3 separate regions of the Homo sapiens genome follow, and regions 2 and 3 are each linked to region 1. The links come from fine-mapping of genetic effects on gene expression. A gene starts in region 1. Each other region holds a variant in brackets. All regions are shown on one strand. Distances are from middle to middle. Region 1 holds the start of SH3KBP1 (SH3 domain containing kinase binding protein 1). Region 2 holds the start of EIF1AX-AS1 (EIF1AX antisense RNA 1). Region 3 overlaps SH3KBP1 (SH3 domain containing kinase binding protein 1).

Evidence for each region.
Region 2: its variant is fine-mapped to the expression of SH3KBP1 in sun-exposed skin (GTEx, PIP above 0.99).
Region 3: its variant is fine-mapped to the expression of SH3KBP1 in sun-exposed skin (GTEx, PIP above 0.99).

The regions. Positions count from the first base shown.
Region 1 is chrX:19,883,356-19,891,616 of GRCh38, reverse strand. SH3KBP1 (SH3 domain containing kinase binding protein 1) reads left to right here and starts at 4,017. Exons shown (of 18, transcript NM_031892.3): 1 at 4,017-4,310. The coding sequence starts at 4,307. RefSeq lists an enhancer at 1,351-1,400 and silencers at 3,566-3,865, 3,926-3,995, 4,476-4,615.
Region 2 is chrX:20,133,190-20,141,452 of GRCh38, reverse strand. EIF1AX (eukaryotic translation initiation factor 1A X-linked) reads left to right here. Exons shown (of 7, transcript NM_001412.4): 2 at 2,831-2,914; 3 at 5,612-5,715; 4 at 7,446-7,496. EIF1AX-AS1 (EIF1AX antisense RNA 1) reads right to left here and starts at 1,485. Exons shown (of 2, transcript NR_046592.2): 1 at 1,218-1,485; 2 at 1,009-1,118. It also overlaps SCARNA9L. RefSeq lists an enhancer at 214-373. The variant G/A (reference allele first, on the strand shown) is at 4,029.
Region 3 is chrX:19,588,231-19,596,230 of GRCh38, reverse strand. It overlaps SH3KBP1 (SH3 domain containing kinase binding protein 1), which reads left to right. Exons shown (of 18, transcript NM_031892.3): 10 at 1,231-1,282; 11 at 4,084-4,164; 12 at 7,429-7,588. Among named protein-coding and RNA genes, the nearest start is that of MAP3K15, 77 kb to the right of the region's middle. The variant G/A (reference allele first, on the strand shown) is at 3,249.

The DNA.
Region 1 (8,261 bases):
AAATAAAATCCTATTTCTCTAGAAATATTCATGAGATGAATTTACATCATTTGAAATATTGCAATAACCATTTTGTTAAAAGATACTCTTGTAAGAGGGAGGCAGGATGAGAAATTATGCATCTATTCATGTCAGCAGCTGGATCTGAATCTTGATATTAACTTCCCTTGTGCTGGTCAGCAAAAGTTTCTCCAAGGAAAAATGAAAGGACAATAGGAACAATTCAGAAGAACTAAACAATAAGTGAAAAAATGGAAGGTTCATTTTCATAAGTCAGAGAAACTTAAAATGAAAAATAAACTATAGTGTTTTGGATAGAATCACCACAACTTTGTTTAGTTAAGGCATTAAAATTAGGGCACATGTCCCGGTGCGATGGCTCACGTCTGTAATCCCAGCACTTTGGGAGGCCAAGGCGGGTGGATCACCTGAGGTCAGGAGTTCAAGACCAGCCTGGCCAACAAGGTGAAACCCCATCTCTACTAAAAATACAAAATTAGCTGGGCGTGGTAGCGCATGCCTGTAATCCCAGATACGCGGGAGTCTGAGGCAGGAGAATCGCTTAAACCCGGGAGGTGGAGGTTGCAGTGAGCCAAGATCCCACCATTGCACTCCAGCCTGGGCAACAAGAGTGAAAGTCCATCTCAAAAACAAAAAAATAAAAAATAAAATTAGGACATAGCTCAGGGATTTTCAAAAATATTGTCTTGCCATCAGTCTTTCTTTTGTGGTAACGCAAATTTGACCACGCAGGAAGCAGATCAAGGAGGAGCGACACCGCATTCCTGTCCAAGAAGGAAAAGATATGCCTTGAAATAGACCAGAGAATAAACAAGACTCAAAACTTCAAGCAAGTCGGGCGCAGTGGCTCAGCCTGTAATCCCAACACTTTGGGACACCGAGGCGGGGGAGGATCATTTGAGCCCAGGAGTTTAAGACCAGCGTGGGCAACATAGTGAGACCTCATCTCTACAAAAACTACAAAAATTAGCCGGGTGAGATGGCACGTGCCTGTAGTCCCAGCTATTTGGGAGGCTGAGGTGGGAGGATCACTTGAGCCCAGGAGGTTGAGGCTGCAGTGAGCCATGATCACGCCACTACCCTCCAGCCTGAGTGACCGTGAGACCCTGTCTCAGAAAAAAAAAAAAAAAAGACAACAAAACGAAACAAACCCCCCAAATTTCAAGTGATCTGTGTTCACCTGTGTGAAGTTGGAAATAAAATTCCATGAGAAGACTGTCTTCTCCACATAGGACAGAGAGACCAAGCAGGACATAAGACAAACTGCTGATTTTTTCTTTTTCTTTGAGCCGACAGGGTTCCCGCACCCCATCTGCTGGTTTAGGTGTAGTGGCCTCTGTGATGCCTGGGTAAGTTTAGCTATGGGAAGGTATCATCAACAATGTTCAAAGACTTTTGACTCATCATTGTGAGAATGCACTGGGCAACCAGCCAAGAATCTTCAGCACTCCAGATAACAGTCCACTGCAAGGCCAGCACAACTGTTGCCATGTTGAAATGTACCCCATCACTTTCAGGGGTCTGAGGCTCTTTGAGAGAGGGTTAGGATGACCCACTGATACGGCCTTACCAAAGAGAACCACCTCTGGAATTGAGCAGACCCCCATACCAGTTCTTCTGGGGTTGGGGGAAAAAAAATGTCCCAGTAGCAGAGGGTTTATCCAGGCTCTGTGAGTTTCAGTGTTTGTCAACTCTAAGATGGTATCAGAAGGCTTGATTGCCCTGATTAGAACATGATATAACAAGACATGTAATGAGTGAGGCACCAGGGTGCCTGGAGGAGGAATATTTGAGTATTCATCATCCCTGCCTTCAACATTTCACATTCTTTTTTTTTTTTTTTTTTTTTGAGACGGAGTTTTTCGCTCTGTCGTCCAGGCTGGAGTATAGTGGCGCCATCTAGGCTCACTGCAACCTCCACCTCCCAGGTTCAAACAATTCTTGTGCCTCAGCCTCCCACGGAGTTAGGACTAAGGCATGCACCACCACGCCTGGCTAATTTTTGTATTTTTAGTAGAGAGAGGGGCTCGCCATGTTGGTCAGCCTGGTCTTGAACTCCTGACCTCAGGTGATCCGCCCACCTCGGCCTCTCAAGGTGCTGGGTTTACAGGCGTGAGCCACCGTGCCTGGCCCACTTCACATTCTTTTCTTTTCTTTTTTTCTGAGACGGAGTCTCGCTCTGTCGCCCAGTCTGGAGTGCAGTGGCACGATCTTGGCTCACTGCAAGCTCCACCTCCCGGGTTCACACCATTCTCTTGCCTCAGCCTCCGGAGTAGCTGGGACTACAGGCGCCCGTCACAACACCCAGCTAATTTTTTGTATTTTTTAGTAGAGACCGGGTTTCACCATGTTAGCCAGGATGGTCTCGATCTCCTGACCTCGTGATCCGCCCGCCTCGGCCTCCCAAAGTGCTGGGATTACAGGCGTGAGCCACCGCGCCCGGCCTTCACATTCTTAATCTCCGTGTTCTCTGATCCCTTTTTTAGGAGTCTGATATTGATGACACTAGGACTTCAATTGCAGCCTCTGTGTGGATGGGCCTCTTGTCCCTTGATTAGTCTCCTATTTCGATCGGTTTGACACACATGAACGGTATTTAGAAAGATGATGCTACTGATCTCTTGTTTGTAAGACCCTGACTTTGAGGTTTTTTGAAAAACTCATGAAACAGTTATAAGAACAATTTTCTACAGAAATCCCAGGACGGTAACCAATTTACAAGAGTTGCCCCGCCAACACAGGTGAGGTATGGAGACAGCCCCTCTCTTGGGTAGGGGGTCGGCTTTCATTTGTCCCTTTTGAGTCCACTAGCCCTCAGCCTCCTCCATTTCCAGGGGCCACTGATGTAATTTCTCTATTGTCTTACGTGCTCTTTGCCTAAATGTCTCCCATGTAGTTCACTATCGCTTCCTACCACCAGATGGTGGAAAGGGAAAAGGAAATAACGGGCCGGTAGAGGAATGTGGTGGCAGGCAGAGTATCTATGGCGAAAGGTGTGGTGGTGAATGGACCCAAAACGGAGCTTCTGAATTGCCCACGAATGCCCACGGATTCCCTGTTAACATTTTAGCGCCCACTCAAGGGTCGGCCGTCCAGGTCTGGGAGTCAGTAAGGCACAATAATGCCTGCTAGGGAGGGAGCCAGCCCTCATCTCAGCGGATTCCTGGGAACGTCAGAGCTCGGGAACATTCCTGAACACCCGAACCGCACCTGGCCCAGGCACTGGGGCGGGGCTTAGGCGGGTCCCAGCGAGGCGATGCGTCCCCTCGGCCCCGCTGCGTCCTTCGCCCGTTTTTCCCCACGTCAGTGCCACCGCCTCCTCTGTGCGGAACTCGCACCTGGCCTGCCTGCGTTCCCACGCCCCACCGAAGGGACGCCGCGTTTCTCTCCCTTCCAAGGGACCCTTTTCCTTCCCCTCCAACAGCCCCCCGGGAAAACTCATTCCAGATTGCCTCGATGCCCCAGGGCCACCTGCCATCACCCTGGTCAGGCGTTTGGCCCCGGGCCTGCCCTGGTCTCCATCCCCAGCCCGTCCTCCACCTCTTGTCGCCCCCTCCCGCTCAGCCCCCTTCTCCTCCTTCTCCACGTGCCCCTGCACTCCCACGCCCCTCCCCCAAGAAGCCCCTCTCCTCCGGTCTCGAGGAGTCTCGCGGCACTTCCCGGGGCGTCAGCCCAGCCGCTGCGGGTGGGTGGCAGCCGCGCGGAGAGGGGTGCCTCTGGCGCGGGCGGTGAGGAGGGCGCCCAAGCCCCTCAGCCGCAGGGACGCCCCCGGCGCCTGCCCCGACGCGGCCCCGGCCCCGGCCCCGCCCCTCTCCGGCCCCGCCCCCGCCCGGCGGCCGCGCGTCCCCGGCAGGCGGAGCTGCAGGAGCCTCGCGGCAGCGCTGAGGAGGAGGGGAGAGCGGGCGGCGCGGCCGCGGCTGCCGGGCGCTGGGCTGGGCGGCGCTGTTTTTTTTTTTTTTTTTTTTTTTTTTTTTTTTTTTTTTTTTTTTTTTTTCGCAATTTCCACTCGCGGGGAGCAGGAAACCCGGCGCAGCCGGGCGCATTGGGCCGCGATGCAACAGCAGCAGCAGGAGTCGCCCCGGGGCAGCAGCGGCAGCAGCAGCAGAGGCAGCAGCGGGCGGCGCTGAGCCGCCGCCGCCGCCACTGAGGAAGAAGCCGGCCCAGCCGCCGCCGCGTCCGGACCCTCGCGCCTGGATCCCAGCGCCCCGATCCCGGCGCCCCAACCCCCACGCCCGCCTCCGCCAACTTTCACGCTGCCTCGGCGGCCCGGCCCGGCTCGACGCCAATGGGTGAGTGGGGGCCGCCCGCGTCCGGGCGTCCACTTCAGCCTTGAGGGCGGCGCGCCAGTCCCAGAACCGCGGAGCCCGGGAGGGCGCCCCGGGGGCAGGGTCCGGACGGGGGACACCGCGGTGGGCGCCCTCGCCTGCCTCGCGCACCCCCATTCACTCCCACTTGCGCCCGTGTGCCCGCCGAGCCCGCGCGCGGCGCCGACGGGAACCCGCGGGGGCCTGAGCAGACGATCACGGGGGCTGGCCCCGGGCGGCTCGGGCTGAGGGATGCAGGGGGTGTGGTTGGTTTTTCGGGTGGGCGGGGAGAGTTTTGTCTTGGCCATTTTTGCACCCGAGCGCGCCCTCCTCTGCGCTGCGGACACGGGCACCCGGACCTGGTGGGCTCCGGCCCTGCGCGGGGCTGCTGGTGTCTTCCTGGTCCTGTCTCGGGGGAAGCTGGAACCTCGGGGTCTTGGAGGGGGCTGGGTTGCCTTTGCTGGGGGTTGACAGGGGTTGGGGGGTGGGGCGGGAAACGCCCCAGTTCCTGGTCTGGCTCGCAGTCCCGGGGTCCAGAGCACCTGACGCTCCTCTCCTTGCGCCCCCCTTCCTCCCGGCCCCGACCCTTTCGCTGCTGCCTTCCTCCAGCCTGGCGAGCTCTCTGCTCCGTGATGCTAAAAGGCCACTTCCCATACTGTCCTTTAAGTCTTCAGGGTCTGGGACCTGGAAATGGTGATCCGGTCTTTGATTTACTGAGTAAACATCAGTTCGAAGTAGCCAACTAACCTTTGAACCCCCTGGGTCCCATTTGATTTAGACCCCGGAGCATTGGAACCACCTTGCTGCCCAGAGAAGCTGCCACTTTATTGGCAAGGCACTTATGATTACTTGGGCTATTAAATGTTTGGTCTACCCAGGTAATGTTCTTGCTGACAGCCAGCTTCTGTTTTTCAGCCTCTGGCAGATTATTTTTGGATGTTCCTAGGCCAGGCATAGGAAGGCTGCAGATAATAATAAATCATAATAAAGTGAGACCTTTCTGTGTTCAGGTAATAGGATTCCAGTACACTAGTCAGGATGTTCAGAAAGCCTGAAGGATTGGAAAAGAGGAGGTTTAACCCAGTCCGTTGTTGACAGGCAAAGTTAAAATCCCATTTGTGGTCATTTGCCAAAAAAGGTTTTCCTTTTCTAAGTAGTGGTGATCTGTTGTCCCCTTGGCTTAAATGTCACTTTTTTCACAGTGCCCTTCTCTCCCACCTGTAGTCTAAATTGGTTCCTGTTCCATTTTCTCATACAACACCTTTTTTTTTCGTAGCAGTATTACATATTTGTGCGTAACAGTTATCTCCTCTACTGTAAGCTCTGTGACCATAGGGACAGCACAGTGTTGCATAGTTTGCTCAGCACTTTTGGTGTGTGGCACAGAGCAGGACCTAAATATTTGTTGAATGAATGAATGAGGGGCATGAAATCCTCCTCCTCTGCTGGGGACAGAACACTTAGCTCACTCTTGTTTTGCTTTGGCCCATAAGATGATTTAGTTCATTGGCAGAAGTATATACTTTAAACCTTACAGGCCACTTTAGTAATGGGTTAATTTCTCCCGAGGTAACCAAAAATTCTGTTTTGATCACCTTTCATTTTGGGTGGGTCACCGAGAGGGTTATGCACAAAAAGAAGTTAATCCAAATGTCTTCTCCCATGGCCAGACTGTGCTTTCTGTATCTCAATGAGAAGGGGACTGAGTCTCATTTAAGAAGAATCAGACCTATTTTTCAGATTTGAACTGTTTTCATTCTTCAGAACTTCCTACGAAAAATAGAGTGCTCCTGTAGTTTTTAGTCCTTTTGTACTTAATCTTTACTGCAACCATTATTGCAGGGGGAGGGGGCATCGATTTTCATTTATTTCAGGAGTTAATACTTAGAGGTGATAATGTCAAAACGAATGTAATTTAATTCATGTTTATAGTGGGATTTAAGGTGCTTATAGTAGTTTGTGGCTAAAAATCACCTGCTCTTTTGAAAGCATCTCCAGCAGTATATTTGTAATGAAGTGCAGTTATTTAACGGTTCATTCTGTATGTCTTCCAATGGAGTGATCTAATGGGCTGAGGTTGTGTGTATGCAGACAGAGGCCCACCCTTTCCCCCAAGTCTCTGGTTTTCAGATTTATCCAGTTTATCAATTTGATGCAATTTTATTCTTTTTTAAGAGGGAGGGTCTCGCTGTGTTGCCCAGGATGGATTTGAACTCCTGGACTCCAGATCTTCCCAAGTAGCTGGGACTGCACGCTCACACCACTGTGCCTGATTCTGATACACTTATATTCTTACCTGGCCTGATAATGAGTTTTCTCTTGATGGATAACATAGTAAAACTGTATCTTATATTTCGTTTTCTGAAAAATAACAGAAAAGAACCAAATCCCTAACCCTGAAGTGAAGCTGGTTAGTTGCAACATGGCCTCTTATAAAAGCCCATCAGAATGTGCCCTCTGAACTTGCTAGGAGATGCATGCCTACAGTGCCAGACACAGAGAAAGCCTCTTATAATTACAATTAAACAGATATTATGGTGACCCAAATCTGTGAGTAGTGAAGGGTTTGCAAGCCCACAAATGATTTCTGTTTAATTCCAGAGTAACAACAAAGTTTGGATAGCCTTTGGCAATGTATTTATTGTATTGGCGGTAGACTGCTGTATGCTAAACTAAAGCTAAAATGAACATAATGTGTTGGTCTGTACAAATGTCTTGAGTTAGAAATGGAAGAAAAGGCTCCCACCTTAATTGTACATAAGCTTTACCCACTTCTATCCATCTTGGCACGAGCAAAAGCTTGCTGTGGCTCTGGTTACACAAACCTTGGTGGTTTCTTCTCTTACTACTTCAGTTCTTTTGGCGTTACTGACATTCTCTCATCAACTCTTGAGTTTGTAGTTGTTTTTAATGTATTTTGCATACAGCAGTATTTGTTCATCTATCCATCCATCCATCCATCCAATGTTTGTTGATCTTCTTTGCATAGGCACTGTGCTAAGAACAGGTGCAGAACAGAGACATGACACTTTGGGCTTCTCAGTCTAATGAAGGCTGACTTGAATGCAATTCTCATGGCAGTATGTAGCTGAAAGCCATAGTAGAGCGCATGAAAGATGAGTGGAGAAGGCCAATCTGACTTAGCCTGGAGAGTGCCCAGGACAGTGTCTTAGAGGAGATTGTGTTTGAGCAGAAATCTGGTTGAGTATGAGTCATCACTGCCCTCCAGCCACACCTGGTTCTTGTGGCAGAGACTGAAAACGAGCACCGTGGGAACCGCGGGGCATCTCAGTAAGATGGTACAAGGAAGGATGACTTAGAGGGCTTGCACCTGTGTCAGGTGGCTTGAGGGCGTGTTTAAGGAAGCTGGGCATTACTTTGGATTGGATGCTACCAGGGGGAATTTGTGATTGGGTATTTTAACAAATGTTCTCTAGGAGCAGGGAACATTGGAGGCAGGCCACAGCTATGGTTGGTAAAGCAGCAGCAGTCATTTGCATTATCCAGGATTGGGGGATATTTGGTCATGTGTGTGGTTTGGACAAGGTGCATGTTTTGTCCGTGTTCAGACATGATTAATGTGTGGTCTTGTTTTCATCTTATTCCATCCTGGTCGCAGAGTGGCCTTGTCTGATGTTGGTTTTCTAGGGAATTGTTTCTGTTCAACAGGACACCCTGGCCCAGCTGTGGGTGCCTGGCCAGCTCCCAGCCAGAAGAACTGCTCTTTCTCCGAGTTAACTATGTGACAGGCAGGGGCAGGGAATCGGAGGCAGTGGGGGAGGAAAATGGCTTTCTAGGTATATCTGTGGCTACTTCATATCAACCAGGTATAGCCTGGACTGTTGTTCAATGCTAAGCACGATGGACATCTGAAATGCTATACTAAGGGAAGAGAGAGTGACAGAGAAAGAGCAAGCTGCTGAGAACCATGAAGTC
Region 2 (8,263 bases), 250 kb before region 1:
AACTCCTGTTGCCCAGTTTGGTCACATTGGGGTGGAGCCGGCGCCATTTTTGTAGGGCCTCCTGCGGGAGAATGTGGGCTTTTGCTCCTGATTCGCGCCAGACTGACCGCTGCTCGGTGGGGACGGTGGCGGGAACCTTCCCCGGGGCGGCCTAGGTTTAGTAGATAGGCCCCTTTGGCCTTCCCGGGCATGAGGGGTTATAATCCCTGGAAGCCGTTCTGAACTTTCAGAGTGCTGTCTGCATTCGTGAGCACCAGGTACTCCTGCATGGGTTTCTTTATGGACAGTTCAGTATTGTTGAGGCTACTCGCTGTCCCTTGTGAACAGTGGGTGAAACCTTGATACATTTCTAAGGCTCACCTCTAGAGATTTACTCTCTCCATCCCTTTACAGGATATAGCTTATGTTTGTTTGCTGAAGACTTATTCCATATTGAGCCAAGTTTTCTACTTTTGCTTCAGATGATGCATATGTTGTGAGAATAAAGACCTAATTTAAGTGTCCTCCATTCTGAGGCTAAGCGTTCACAAATGATCAGACTTGAGGATAACTTTATTTGGGATTTCCAAAACGGAAGGCCTAATCTTAAAAAAAAAAAAACAAAAACAAAAAACAGAACACTCCTAAAGAAATTACTTTTATAGATTTACAGTGTTCCTGTCATTTTTAATAGCCGTATAACTTGAAGAAAATTGTGCAAGTAAATATAGGGAAAATACTGTATTTTCCTACAGGAGAGGAGCATACTTCATAGTCCGTAAGTAGTCTCCTTTGATTATTCATTCTAGAGGAAACCCTCCCCTGACACAGGCCTACTTCTGCTCTCTTTTCTACTTGACAGCTGGCTCCAGGGATTCTACCACATTTCCTCTTTGTAGCTGTCACTTATTACTTTATCCCTTAGGGTACTTGGTCGAGGTGTTCTGTGCACAAGTTGGTGCAGTCACTGCTCATTATTTTGGAAAAGATGGAGTTATAAACAAAAAATTTTAAAGTCTTACAGTTTTCTTCTGTATAATCCTTTATTCTCTCTGAGGTGGTAAGGGGATCACTTCCATCTTATTCTCACCTTTATTTCTAGTAATAAGATTTCCAATTCTTCCACCAGGCTGTAAGCTCTACAAGGCAGGAATAGTATCTGTCTTAATCTCATTGGATTGCCAGCACTTGACAATTAGTAGATGCTTAATAAATATTTGTTGGTTTAAGTCACCTACCTCCTGTCGACTCCACCCTTAGTGAATAATAGGTTCTGCTTTGGTTCCAAGGGGATAGGACTTCTACACTAAATCACATCTAGTTCCCTAGCCTCATGTCTTAAGAAAGAGCCTCTCTGGGAATTTCTCCAAAACAACTCTGGTTTAAAGAATGTTGATGTCACTTTAATTGTTGTACACTCAGACCTAGTCTCATTCATTCAACAGAGAATTTAAAGAACATCCCATTACATGGCAATAAAATACAAAGGGGAGTGATCCGGGTATGGTTAATTCTGGTAAATTGACAAGTAATTAGTCTTTTCTTAAATAACATTTGAGGCATACAAAAAATACAGCTAACATGATATACCTGGGAACCCATTACTCTGAATTTAAGAATTACAGCGCAGATTGAGGTAAAGCCCTAATCACCTTTTACTCTCTTTTTGGAGGTAATCACCAGGCTGAGTTTGGTGTTTATCATTCCTGTACTGTCTGAAACCAATCAGTTCTTAGTTATCTTACTTAGAGGAATGGTACTTTTCATGACCTAATTTAAGTGTCCTCCATTTTTTTTTGCTGCTTCCAAGCTCTTCCCATGAGTCTCTTAGGGTCATTACCACTTACAGCCTTTTTCCTGCCTTTTGGAAATGGCTGCCAATGTGGTTTCCTTTCTGGAATGGGAGCAAAATGCTGTGGAGAGGTAAGCTTATGTGGGGGCTAGGGGCAAAAAAAACATTGTGACTTTGGTCACCCCAGCTTACTGACTGTAATCAGTGAACTGATTTACTCACTGAAGCTAAGCGACTTACTTAACTTCTCTGAGCTTCAGGGAACTCATGGGTAAACTGGGAATAAATGAATGTTATGACCTCATGGGGTGATTGTGACAAGTAAATGGGCAGAATTATTGCATAGTGGTTAAGAGCATGGTCACTGGGGTCATATAATAGAAACAGGGATGTTGAGTAGGGACCAGCATTATAAAAGAAAGTAAATTGGGTACCGAACAGATCTTCTTTATTTTTTAAGAGACAGTGTCTCGCTATGTTGCCCAGGCTAGCCTGGAACCTCCTGGGCTTGCTCAAGTGATCCTCCCACCTGAGCCTCCTGAGTAGCTGAGACCCTAGGCGCACACCACTGCACCCAGTGAGATTTCAATATTTATGGTACTCTGCTACCAAAAGTTTGAAAACCACAGTTCTCTGTCCAGACACTGTCTTCACTTAATTTTGAAAGTATCGGGTTCCTTGCATAGGGCCTGGCTTTAGAAGACACCCAAGATTTCCGCTTAGAAGAATATGTATAGAATTGCATTTTTATTTCAAAAGGATGGGTGCTAAAGTGAAATGTTTTTCTATATTTTTTAACATAATATCTGCTATTTATGTGTATTTTATGTCAGAAAAATCCCCAAAGGAAATTCCAAGAAGGGTAGGGAGGTGATAATGTGTTAATGTTGGGATTGGAGATTGTAAATTTAATATGATTGTGTAGCTAAAATAGATGAATTTTTTAATTTAAGTGATCTTTTAAAAAATGGTTTTATAAGCCTTAATTTCATTTTATTTCATACTGTTTTACAGATAATTAATGTCATTTACCTCCTTTTCTTTTTTTTAAACCATCAGGTAAAGGAGGTAAAAACAGACGCAGGGGTAAGAATGAGAATGAATCTGAAAAAAGAGAACTGGTATTCAAAGAGGATGGTCAGGGTAAGTGTTTTCATAAATTACGCTTTTTAAAATAACATCCTTTCTTTTTTAGCTGGGGACTTTATTTTTTTGAGACAGCGTCTTGCCCATCGCCCAGGGTGAAGTGTGGTGGCACGATTACAGCCCACTGCAGCCATGACCTCCTGGGCTGAAGCAGTCCTTCCACTTCAGCCTCCCGAGTATTTGGGACTACAGGCACACACCACCACGTCTGGCTAATTTTAAAAATTTTTTTAGGCTGGGCGCAGTGGCTCACGTCTGTAATCCCAGCACTTTGGGAGGCCAAGGCGGGCGGATCACGAGGTCAGGAGTTCGAGACCAGCCTGACCAACATGATGAAACCCCGTCTCTACTAAAATTACAAAAATTAGCTGGGTGTGGTGGCACGTGCCTGTAATCCCAGCTACTCAGGAGGCTGAGGCAGGAGAATTGTTTGAACCTGGGAGGCGGAGGTTGCAGTGAGCCGAGATCACACCACTGCACTCCAGCCTGGGTGACAGAGGGAGACTCTGTCTCAAAAAAAAAAAAAAAAAAAAAAAAAAAACTGTATAGAGATGAGGTCTTCATATGTTGCCCTGGCTATTCTCGAACTCCTGGGCTCAAGTGATTCTCCCACCATGACCTCCCAAAGTACTGGGAACTAAGAATGTGTCGTATAGTTCAGAGGGAATTGAGCTATGGTTGACAGTTCTGTGATTTAGTTGGCAGTTCTATGATTAGCATTTCTGGTAGTGAATGGTACATATAATATGTTGAGTAGACCATGGACATTTGAAGGATGAGCCTGAGGCCCTTATAGACCTCTCCATTCTCCAGTGCCATTAGCATATAACTTCGTAAACTACAATAAAATGAAACTGAACAGTTAACTGATTTTATTAGACTGAAGAATATTGTAAGTGCCAGACCAAGATACATAGCACTAGTCAAATAAATCCTAACTGGATCGTTTGCCCTTTCCTGTTACTTTTATTTCGAGTCATTTCAAACCTACAGAAAGTTGCAGTATTAGTGCAACAAACTCCCTTAAATCCTTCATCTGTACACACACATATAAAGAAATATATATGTGGGATTTTTTAATTTTTTTTTTGAGATGGAGTCTCGCTCTGTC[G/A]CCCAGGCTGGAGTGCAGTGGCGCGATCTCGGCTCACTACAAGCTCCACCTCCCGGGTTCACGCCATTCTCCTGCCTCAGCCTCCCAAGTAGCTGGGACTACAGGCACCCGCCACCATGCCTGGGTATTTTTTTTGTATTTTTAGTAGAGACGGGGTTTCACTGTGTTAGCCAGGATGGGTCTCGATCTCCTAACCTCGTGATCCACCCGTCTCGGCCTCCGAAAGTGCTGGGATTACAGGCGTGAGCCACCGCACCTAGCCCCATATGTAGGATTTCTTCAGGACCATTTGAAATTTAGAGACATCATGTTACTTTTCCCTTACTTGATCATGTATCTTCTAAGTGCAAGTATATTTTCTTATATAACTAGAAGAGAATTATCACACTCAGGTAATTTGACATTGATATAATATCTAGTATATACTCCATATTTCCTCAGGTATTCCAATTATTTCCAGTACTTTAGCTTTTAATAGAACTTTGGGTGGATTTATTACGCCATACATATAAACCAGTAAACATGAGATACGTTTTCTGGCTAAAAGTCCTTTGGTTTCTTAGCCTTGGTCATCCTTGCCTCTAAAATAGCAGCTGACTTGACTTGGGCATACACTGTTTTATTATTACTTTTTCCCTCACTTCAGAAGAAAGGCTGCCTTTGAGTTGACCAACCATGTTGAGGTGGTAGATGGGTGCTAAACTCACTGTAGTCTGAGTAATTGACTTCCACAAGTCATCCCCACTGTTGAGCCTTTCAAAATGAAGTCTCAGTATATTTACAAATTAATGGACATCCTCTCTGGGGATTAGTCATATTCTAATTCAACAAAGACATTGTTTGAAGTTTGTTTTTGTTTGCTAAATGAACTAAAAATTATGAGATTTGCACCTAAAGGTACTGAGGTAAAGGAGAGCCAAAAGTGGGGTAGTCAATCTACTTATTCAGAATGAGTCGATAATTTAAACATGTCTAATAGCAGAGACAGTATATTATAGAAATGGCATTACATTCTCTGAGATCTGCTTTTACTGAAGTGGATCAATGATGAAACTAGCCAAATCTGAGCATCAGAAGGCTTTCCGGTCTACCTGATGCATGATCTCTACAGTTCTGAGAAGCAGAACTATAAAACAATGTAAAACAATAAGGGCATATGTCTGGTGTGTGTGTGGGGGGTGTGTGTGTGTGTGCACGCACACGTGTTTATAAAGGTAGCAGTTGTAGGAATGAATGAGATTGGGGGTGAGGGGGTGCATATGTATGTCTATGAAAGCCTAATCATTTCTGGGCAATGATGTAAAGGTTTTACGACTGACCTTTGTAACTATGAAGTTTTCTACACTTGACCTGAGCTCAGAAAAAAGAAAGAAAGAAAGAAATGTCATCATAGAGTCTTAGTTCTAGCTCTGCCGTTAACTAACTTGATGTTTATCACTCCCTTATGTTTGTTTATAGTTTTACTATATGTATTTATTCCCAACTGGTGCAACTTTATTCTCTTGACAGTTTTATGTGGACTTTAAGTTGCTGTTATCAAAAGTTGAACAATATTCCATACCCTTTTCCTTTCTCCCCGCTAGAGTATGCTCAGGTAATCAAAATGTTGGGAAATGGACGGCTAGAAGCAATGTGTTTCGATGGTGTAAAGAGGTTATGTCACATCAGAGGAAAATTGAGAAAAAAGGTAGGTGTGATTTGTTTTACTTTAATATAAAATTGGTTAAGGGGGAAAATCCCTCTACAGTTTTTAACTGTCCATGGACTTCATTTTTGGAAATTCCCAAAAGACTTACCTTGGTAAACAGTGATTTACCTATAAGTAAAATAGCAAGGTCTGTAATGGTAATTTTATACAGGTTCTAATGTTAAAGAAGCATTTGTATCACTTGTATTGTATTCCTGCCCAAAAAGTCCAAATTGAGAGACATTCTGCAAAAACAAACGGCCCAGTTTTTTTTTTCCTTGTCTTTTTTTTGATACAGGGTCTCACTCTTATCACCCAGCCTGTAGAGTAGTGGCATGATCTGGGCTCACTGTAACCTCACCCTCATTGGTTCAAGTGATCCTCCCACTTCAGCCTCCCGTGTAGCAGGGGCTACAGGCCTGTGCCACCATGCCTGGCTAATTTCTGTATTTTTTGTAGAGATGGGGTTTCTTCATGTTGCTTAGGCTGGTTTCGAATCCTCAGCTCAAGCAATCAGCCCACCTTGGCCTCCCAAAATGCTGGGATTATAGGCATGAGCCACTGTACCCAGCCAGATGGCCCAGCTCTTAATGCAATGTTACTGTCATGAAAGTTTCAAAAAAAAAAAAAAAAAAAAGCTGGGGTACTATTCTAGTTGCAAGGAGACTTAAAGAGACCTGACAGTTAAATGGAGTAGGTTGCCCTTGTTTGGATTCTGATTTAGGAATTGGACATATAGCTGTAAAGTGTACATTCAGAAAATTTGAATATGAGTTATATAAGCATTGTATTAATGTTGCATCTCTTGAATGTCATCGTGAATGGACTGCCTTGGAAAGTAATGATTAATTCACCATCACAGTAGTTATTCAGGCAGATTTATTAATCAGGTTGACTAAAAGTCCCAACTCTGATTTTGTATTTATTTTTTTTAATTTGGTATGTTAATCCTTCTATTCCCAAACTAAAATCTTTTTTTCTTTTTCTTTCTTTTTTTTTTGAGACAGAGTCTCACTCTGTCATCCAGGCTGGAGTGCAGTGGCACAATCTTGGCTCAGTGCAATCTCCGCCTCCCAGATTCAAGTGTTTCTCCAGCCTCAGCCTCCTGAGTAGCTGGGATTATAGGCATGCGCCACCACGCCTCGCTAATTTTTGTATTTTTAGTAAAGACAAGGTTTTACCATTTTGGCCAGGCTGGTCTTGAACTCCTGACCTCAAGTGACCCGCCGGCCTCGGCCTCCCAAAGTGCTGGGATTATAGGCGTGAGCCACAATGCCAGCCCAAACTAAAATCTCTTAATTTCTTTTCTTTTTTTTTTTCTTTTAAAGAAGTTTATTTATTTGTTTTTTTGAGACGGAGTCTCACTCTGTTGCCCAGGCTGGAGTGCAGTAGCGCAGTCTTGGCTCACTGCAACCTCCGTCTCCCAGGTTCAAGTGATTCTCCAGCCTCAGCCTCCCGAGTAGCTGGGACTACAAGGGCATGCCACCACGCCCAGCTAATTTTTGTATTTTTTAGTAGAGACGGGTTTTTGCCATGTTGGCCAGGATGGTCTCGAACTCCTGACCTCAGGTGATCCGCCCACCTTGGCCTCCCAGAGTGCTGGGATTACAGGCATGAGCCACCGCTCCTGGCCTAAAATCTCTTAATTTCTAAACTAATTGATTGTTACTCTGGAATTTCTTGATTCTTCGTTATTTTAAATGTGACGGGCAGTGACTTTTCTTTTGTAGGTTTGGATAAATACCTCGGACATTATTTTGGTTGGTCTCCGAGACTACCAGGTAAAATTTACATGTAAATTTTTCCTATTTTACTGGCTTGAATTTGATGAGCCATTTCTTAAGAGCCAGTTTTGTTTCAGGCATTGTGCTAGGTATCCCAGGGATTTATGTTTAAATCAAAATCTGGGAGCCATTATTCTAGGGGATACAGCTGAATGAGTTAAGTGCCCATCCCACAAAAGGCTCATAGCCTGGTAGTGGAGAGAGTTAAGCACACAAGTAATTACAATACACATCACAACATAGGTATGTGCTATAAATCTAAAGGAGCACTTGGGAAAGAAAGAAAGTGGTGGTTGCCTTTCGTGATGGTAACCCTTGACTCTGTAGACTCATTGTGGGTCTGTGAGATCCATTTGACATCCACCTATTGGAAATCATCCCTGTATGATACTATCTCTATTTGTATAGCCTCGATCATACTTTGATTTAAAAAAAAAAAAAACCCAGAATAAATAATTTAAATCTTCACTTTAAGCCATTGTTTCTCAACTGTGGGCAGTTTTGCCCTCCGAGGGACATTGGCAGTGTCTGGAGACTTTTCTGGTTGTCACAACTGGGGGATGGGTGCAGTGCTGCTAGCATGTAGTAGATAGAGGCTGGGGTGGGCACAGGACAGCATCCCATAATAGAGAATGGTCCGCCTCACAATAATCCATAGCGCTGAGGTGAGAAAGCTTGCTTTAAATTCATACCATTTTAATGTCCATTTTTTTCTTATGATCTAACAATAACCCCAGAAATAGGAAGAATAAGTAATTTCCTGT
Region 3 (8,000 bases), 300 kb after region 1:
GGTCTAAAACCGAGTTTGCGTTATCTCTGAGGTATGCCTGTACTCTGATTCCGAGGTAAAGGAAGGTTAACTGGCAGAACTTCACTGATACTTTTGTTAGGTAAACACACATCTGTCCCCAGGATAATTAACACAACGACAGAGAAGGGAGGAAGAAAAAGAGTTAGTAGAGAGCTAGAAGGGGCTGGCAAAAGGGGAAAGAATAATGTGAGATCATGAGGCAGAAACACATCCATCCCATGGAGGACCTGTGTGTAAGGGCAGGTGGCCCTTAGAGCAGCTTTCTTTATTTTAATAAAGTATATTTCTCTGCACTCATAGAGACAATACAGAAAAACATTAAGAATGACACACACACGTGTGCGCACACATATGCACCCAGAATCAGAGATCACTGCTTCCCCCTAACACAGCTGTCTGAGAACAGTGCCCTGGCTGGATTTTTTGGCCATGGAATAATTTTCCAAGTCCAGCCTGATCATCTCTCTCCCACAGTCAATCCTAGGTGGCAAGAAAATGCTGGCTACTCTGGAACCAGTTCAGGGATGAATGCCATTGATTGCACTGCTACCTCCATCACCTACAGAGTGACAGCATGTGAGAAAAACAAATCACGGCTGATATGCAAAAAAAAAAAAAACAAACCAAAAAACAACAACAAAAAAAATCCCTCTCTGTTCCAGTTTATCACATGTACAATGAGTCTGTGGGGTGTCTAACAAATGGCCTGCCAGCCTCGGTGTAGAAAGGGGCAGAAGGCTTGCAACCTGATGTGGCTGCAGTGGGCCCTCAGCCTGCATTTTGTTGAGAGTCCTACATCCAGAGCAGATTCAATTTTGAATCTTTACAGTGACTCTTTTCGAATGCATGGTTATTCAGCAGATTAAATCTTAATTGCAAATGCAGCTTCAGCGTAGGAGTACCATTGTGCTTGCTGGTTTCAGGCCATTTTTGCTGAGCCGTGCTTTTCCAGAAGGCTGTTACAAATTTAGAAAGGGGGAAATGGCGTTTCATTTGTCGATTGGAGTTTTGTTTTGCCGACTGGATTTATTTTAGTGTTTGTTTAGAGGTGCCAAAAACTGACGTCCCTGGAGAGAGAATTGCTCAATTTTTTTGGAGAGGTTCTCTAAATTGTCCAAACTGCACATAGAAAACAATGTCTGTGGTCCTTCTGTGAGAGGACAGGCTTGCCAACAATCTCATGTGGTATAATTTTTATTAATTTTTCAGAGACCCAAGAAGCCACCGCCTCCATCCGCTCCTGTCATCAAACAAGGGGCAGGTAATGTACCTTTCAGTTCCATCAAATAAAATATGCGTCTTTCTTTTTGCATATATTCAAATCATCCTCAGTGTAGAGTTCGGGATTCCTGGTTCAAGTGCCATAGATTGACTACTTGGGAAGTTACGATTTGGTCTCAGCAGGCAGGTTTTAAAGATACTTCTGTTTTTCCTAAAAGATAAACATACCATTAAAATGTGACCCTGATATAGTGTAAAAATCTAGGCTCCCAATGAGAATGATCAGAAAGAATTAAAACAAACAAACAAACAAACAAAAAAAACAAGTTTGGGTTTTTTTAAGTAAACAGCTTTTGAGGAGAAAAGAACTGAATTGCCCTGTTTCTCATGTGCCCAGTTGAAGGTCAGCTTAGGGAAGATTGTTTCCCACAGGTCATAGCATTGTTGTGCGTATATAGTGTTGCTGAATTTTCGATATCTGTCCCATGTGGTTAACCAAAATTTGTACTGACTTCACTTACCCCTCAACAAAAAGATGTTTTTCTAGCAATAAATACTTTTCCTTATGATTCTTGTTTAATTTTGAAGAGTCTAATTCACTTTTTTTCTGTGTAGTTCAGATATTCAGGTTGAATAATATAGGAAGAATTGATGTTGAACATTTGGTAGCTTGTTTCACACTGGATTCTCATATATAAAAAGATATTTCATATTTCCCGGTAGAACTCCTCTTTATAATAGTTAAAATTAATTATAGGGAAAAATTCCTCCATGAGTTATTAGTTAAGTAGCATTTTAAAAAATTAACAACTAAAATAGAAGAGAAAGGGTATTTTTAGTTCTACACATTCACAATTATATTTCTATAACAGTTAAATTATGAATAAATTTCAAGATTGGTTTATTTATAAACTTATTAAGAAGTGATTTTTAAGTTCTTTTGGCCCACCAAGTTAAGAGGAAAAACTTGACCCCAAATTCCTTTCCCATTCCCTTTGGCATAGTTGAGAATTATTAGAGATTAAGTCCTGAAATGGGATGTTAATTACATCTTTTGCTCCGCCCCCATCCTTGTTTGCATTGAGCAGTTTCATTTTGCCACCTAGTGGTTCTGCCCATATATTTTATTGTGCTGAAATTGAAGCAAGCTATTTATTTACTTTTCTCTGAAGACCCCTTTCCCTGTAGGCCTTGGTAATTGATCAGAGACCGTGGAGATTAGTTGAGGAGTCCAAGGCTCAGGCAGTCTAGAATGTAGCTAAGATTGGATTCTTCAGTATAATAGGATTGTCAGTTCTTTCTGTGTCTCTAGGAATGATACCGACTTCATTATTGTTAGGTGAGTAGATTGTAGCATGGTAGGCAAATTCTTACCCTTTTAAAACAATTTTACCAAAGTTTATGATGGGTCTCTGTGGGGCAAAGCAGGATGGCATTTAATGTTTATAGATTACTGCTCATTTATCCTGCCTGAATGATCGTGGGAACTGCTTTGTAATGGGGAGATAGATATTCATATTTTCTCCCTCGTCAACTTTCCTTGCGTTTGATTATTTTACCAAAAAAAAATCAGATATGAAATTGACAGAAATGAGATGTGGTGATTAATTTGTAGTGAGTCATTAAGAGGAATTAAGTAAAGGATGTGTTTGGTGGATATTTTTTTTAACTTCTTTTGTTCTCTGAGGTTGTGTAATTGAGATTTCTAGTACCAAGCACCCATCTTTGGAACTGGTCATGTAAAGAGTTTGTTAAGAACTCAGCCCAGTCCATACATAAGAGGAGTACTTTTGACTGGTTTGTGCTTTAGCTATTTCTCAAGTGCTCTTACATGCCTGAGGCCACTGGCACCAATGAGGAAACCCCAGGTAAGGGAGCAGCTGCAGTCCATGTGGGTAAAGGCTAAGTGCTAAGTGGTACATTTGAAAAAATGTAATACTTGAAGGACCCCAAATTTGGTGGCATAAAACAACAGCCTTCTTATGTTCATGGATTCTGTGGGTCAA[G/A]AACAGACCATGGCTGGGCTGGCTTGTCTCTGCTCCGTCATATCTGGGACCTCAGCTGGGAATACTGAACTAGCTGAAGCTGGAGGATCCACTTTGAAGATGAATGTTTCCCTCACGTGTCTGGCTCCCCTTGGCAAGGGTGCCTGGAAGGCTGGGCTCAGCTGGGGCTATAGGCTGGAGCATCTGTATGTGGCCTCTCCAGGGTAGTTGACTTCTTACATGGAAGTTCAGTATTCCAGCAAATAAAGCATAAACTACAGGGACTTTTATGACTCAGCTTTGGAAGTTATGTGGTATCATTCCTGCCACTGATTGAAGCAGTCACAGGCCCACCCACATTCCTGGCAAGGGGATGTAGACCTCACCTCTTACTGGGAGGAGTATCAGGTAATTCCAGGCCCTGTTTTAAAATGGCTACAAAATGGGATCCAGATTCCTATGAAACCCCCTTTTTTTGGTAGAACACAACATTCAGTGGCCCCTTATTTGTAAAGTTTGATAATTGACATTTATTTATACACATTCTCCACCCCCACCCGGTGATTTCCTGTGACTATATTGATGCCTAAGGAAATCAGGCTTAAATATCAGAAAATATTATTAGTGGTATTCTTGTAAATTAAGGATACATAGGCAGGTGAACTTAATGACATAGGCCAGAAATGTCTTCTGCTCTGTTTCTAAACAGCTCGTGCTTGCCAGATAATGCTAACGCCCAACTCAGGGGAAAAAATCTTACTGACTTTGCTCTACCTGATAAAGATTTAAATGCTGGTGGGTGTAATAATTGAGTACAGAAAACATTTTGTGATCACTATTACCCTTTCCCTCCTAGGCACCACTGAGAGAAAACATGAAATTAAAAAGATACCTCCTGAAAGACCAGAAATGCTTCCAAACAGAACAGAAGAAAAAGGTATGAAATCAATTCTTCATTGGCACTTCCAGAACAGCAGGAGCTGAAGCTGTCTGTTACACGGCTAGTCCAGAATACCCACAGAATTTGCTTTTCCTTTGGAATATGGTGATCATGGTTTTGTTTTGATTGCTTTTACAAATCCTATTGCTAAGGAAGTAGGAGAGGGTTATGTGGTACTTCGTGGGACCACAATTTCTCATCAGATGAAAAATAACCAGTCTAGTCAATTAACACATTGCTGCTGTTTCCTGATGTCTCTACCATGGCCACCCTCTCTGCACCCTGAAGTCGGATGTAAGTTCCTTTAGGGCCTGGTATATATCTGTCAGTTTCCACTTAGCCTGTCCTTCATGCCTAGTGTCCCAAGGTGCTCATTCACTGTTGATGGATGGATTTGGCATAGTGAAATTCACGTCCAGATAAATAAACAAATGAAAGCTCTTTTCTTTGGTCACTCATGGACCCTTGACTCTGGGTAACGTTATTACAGACAGAAGTCCTTGGTCAAGGATGTTGGAGGAGGGGAGGGTGGCATGGTAATACTGGGAAAGCAGCTTGGTCCCCAGCGTCTCCTGAAGGTGGTCAGGAGTGTCATTGGCAGGAAAGTAGGTTAATGTGTGTCCTGCAATCAGGTTTATGAACGCGTTTGACTCCTACCATTTTGAGAGTCTCTCCCAAAGAATTCTGCATACTGTAGAAGGACTCATTTTATTAGGTGTCTAGGATTTGATTGATCACACATTTTTATGGGAAAAGTGCTATGTTATTACGAACAGGAGGCTGAGCAAATCCCATTTTAAAAAGCAGTTATTTTTAAGTCACAAGAGAAATGCTGAATTAATGAATGTAATTATTTGGAGGTGCTCCTTGGTGGCCTCATGAAATTTTATTGTGAAATTTGATATTTGATATCAGCCTGCCAAAAATTTTACCAACATTGCCAGCTCTTAAGAAGCTATACCTCTTTCTTTCACAGTGAGCAGTTAGAACTTGACTTGTGGAACCTCATTGTGAAGGCCAGGTCTGTGTCACGGATTGAAGAAAAAAACCAGCCATTGAGTATATACTATATGAATAACTCTTTGTATAAAAGCATTGGTATGGCCAGGCACAGTGGCTCACACCTGTAATCCCAGTACTTTGGGAGGCTGAGGCGGGAGGATCACTTGAGCCCAGGAGTTCAAGACCAGCCTGGGCAACATAACAAGACCCTGTCTCTACCAAAAAAAAAAAAAAAAAAAAAAAAAAAAAAAATAGCCAGGCCTGGTGGCCTGTGTCCATAGTCCCAGCTACTTTGGGAGGCTGAGGTGGAAGGATCGCTTGAGTCTGGAAATCAAGACTGCTGTGAGCTGTGACCATGCCACTGTACTCCAGCCTGAGCAACAGAGTGAGACCCTGTCTAAAAAAAAAAAAAAAGTGTGTGATGTGAAATAACCAGACACCACCCTCTGTCCTCATGGAGGACACATGGCTAGTTTCTGGGTAATAGCCAGGCTCCGTGATGGGGACACTTCCTGCACTAGTCCATGCTGACATATGGACTAGGCTTACATGTGAACAACCACCCTAGTTGGCTGACCAAGTGGCCCCACATCTCTGGTTCCTTCCTCTCCCATGATCCCTTGTTATATGCCACAGCGGGTGAGGGACGTAGAATCCCTGGTCAGATGCAATAGGGAAGCCAGGGAATCAGCCCTACCCGGATACTTGGTTTCCCTGTTGGGTCAGCACAAACTCCCTTTTCCATTCATCCAGCAGGCTGCTGGAGTTCCTGTCCCTGTCCTGCTGCAATAGGAGAAATGTCCCCTGCTTTGCATTTCAACAGAGCCCTTCCTCCTCTGGCCCCTGTGTGCCATAAAATGAGTTGCCAGCATTCCTGATTGGAGCATATTTCCCCACATTGTGGGGATGAGCATAATAGTACCTGATGGGTTTATTTTTATTTTATTTTTTTAGAGACAGGGTCTTGCTCTGTCACCCAGCCTGGGGTGCAGTGGTGCGATTGTAGCTCACTGCAGACTCGAACTCCTGGGTTCAAGATCCTCCCGCCTCAGCCTCCCGAATAGCTGGGACTACAGGTGTATGCCACCATGCCCGGCTAGTTTTTGTAGAGACGGGGTTTTACTGTGTTGCCCAGGCTGGTCTTGAACTCCTGGCCTCAAGTGATCCTTCCGCCTTGCCCTCCCAAAGCTCTGAGATTACAGATGTGAGCCACCGCGCCCAGCCCTGATGGGTTTTTTTTTTTTTAACCTTTTGCCAACCATCTGGGCACCCAAACAACATGAGTCTGTGTTTGCAAGTAGAAGGTGTCCTGAGTACCATCTTACAAGTAAGCATAGGGAGCCTGCCTATAGTCCGTTGGGCAACTCTCTCAAGTTCCATCTTTATCAAGAAGAATGTGGATGTATGCTTTTTATGCCACACACGGAGCAAGGCTAGTTGGGAACAGAAAATATGAGGTTGTCACTGAACACTGCCCCCGTTCGGCCAACAGATCTGGCTTCAACTTCATTCTAATATCTGTGACTCCAAAAAGCCTTGGAAACCTTATACCTGTGAAGTCCTAGTTTGCCTTCCAAGTTCAAACTTCTTGTGCGCAAGAAGAATCCAGAACTCATTGTTCCCTGAAATGCTCTCCCTTTTATTTGCTCATGGCCCTTTTCAGAGGCCAGCCTGAGACGTGTCAGGCCTCTTTCCTTCCCATACCCAGCAGGTCCCGTGGGCCATTGACCAAACCCCTCAGCCCTCTGCTGAGCCCTGACTCCATGCCAGCACCACATACAGCTCTGAGGAGATGACCAGACTTGGGCCCTGCCCTCAGGGGCTGTCGGCCTACAGGCTGTGCCAAACATGCAAACACCCAGAAAGTGTCTGAGCGTGTTTGTAAAGCGCTGCCCTGTAATGCTCAGGTGAGGAAGGAAGGAAGTCTGCCTTTGAGCTGTTGGGAAGGGAACATGGCAGTGTCACGTTTCAGCCAGGCTTCGAAGGAAGAGCTGGAGTATGCTGAAGGTGGGCGGTGGCCAGAAGGGCGCTTCAGGCAGAAGGACCAGCATGAGTGAAGGTGTGCAAGGGAGGGAACAGTGAGCTCTGTGGGACTTCTTCTAACCTGACAAAGAATAAGTGGTGCTCTTGGCCTTCCATGATCACCTTCAGAAATAGCATCAGTAATTTTTTTTTTTTTTAGCAGGAAATGAGTGATCTGCATCTAAGTACTGTCACTTACACTCGATCTATCTGTTTTCTTTAAACAATGATTTAAAGAAAGACCAGAGAGAGAGCCAAAACTGGATTTACAGAAGCCCTCCGTTCCTGCCATACCGCCAAAAAAGCCTCGGCCACCTAAGACCAATTCTCTCAGCAGACCTGGCGCACTGCCCCCGAGAAGGCCGGAGAGACCGGTGGGTCCGCTGACACACACCAGGTACTGCTGTGCTCTCACCTCCGGGGCGGGTGTGGGGTGGCTATGGAAGGAACACAGGAGGGGAACTGACTGCCACAGACCTTGGGAGGAAGGGAGAGGAGAAGGGGGTGCTCAAGCTTCCCTCTTACATCCTCCAGCAAAATTATCTGAAGACACCGGCCACTTCTGTCCTTGCTCCTGCACTCAGGCAGGAGTGAGTGTGAGGTTGAGGGGTGCGGTGTGGGTTTCATGAGGACTGGGTACCCAGCATTTAGGCCCTGCTCACACACAGGGGTTTTTCCTGGGCCTTATTAGAAGCAAGGCCAACTGCCCTTCAGCCTGGAAATGCAGGTGGCGTGTCCCTCTTTGTCCCCCTGGATGTTGTGCCGGCCTCAAGTATGTATATCTCATGTGTGGCTACGACCCCTGACCC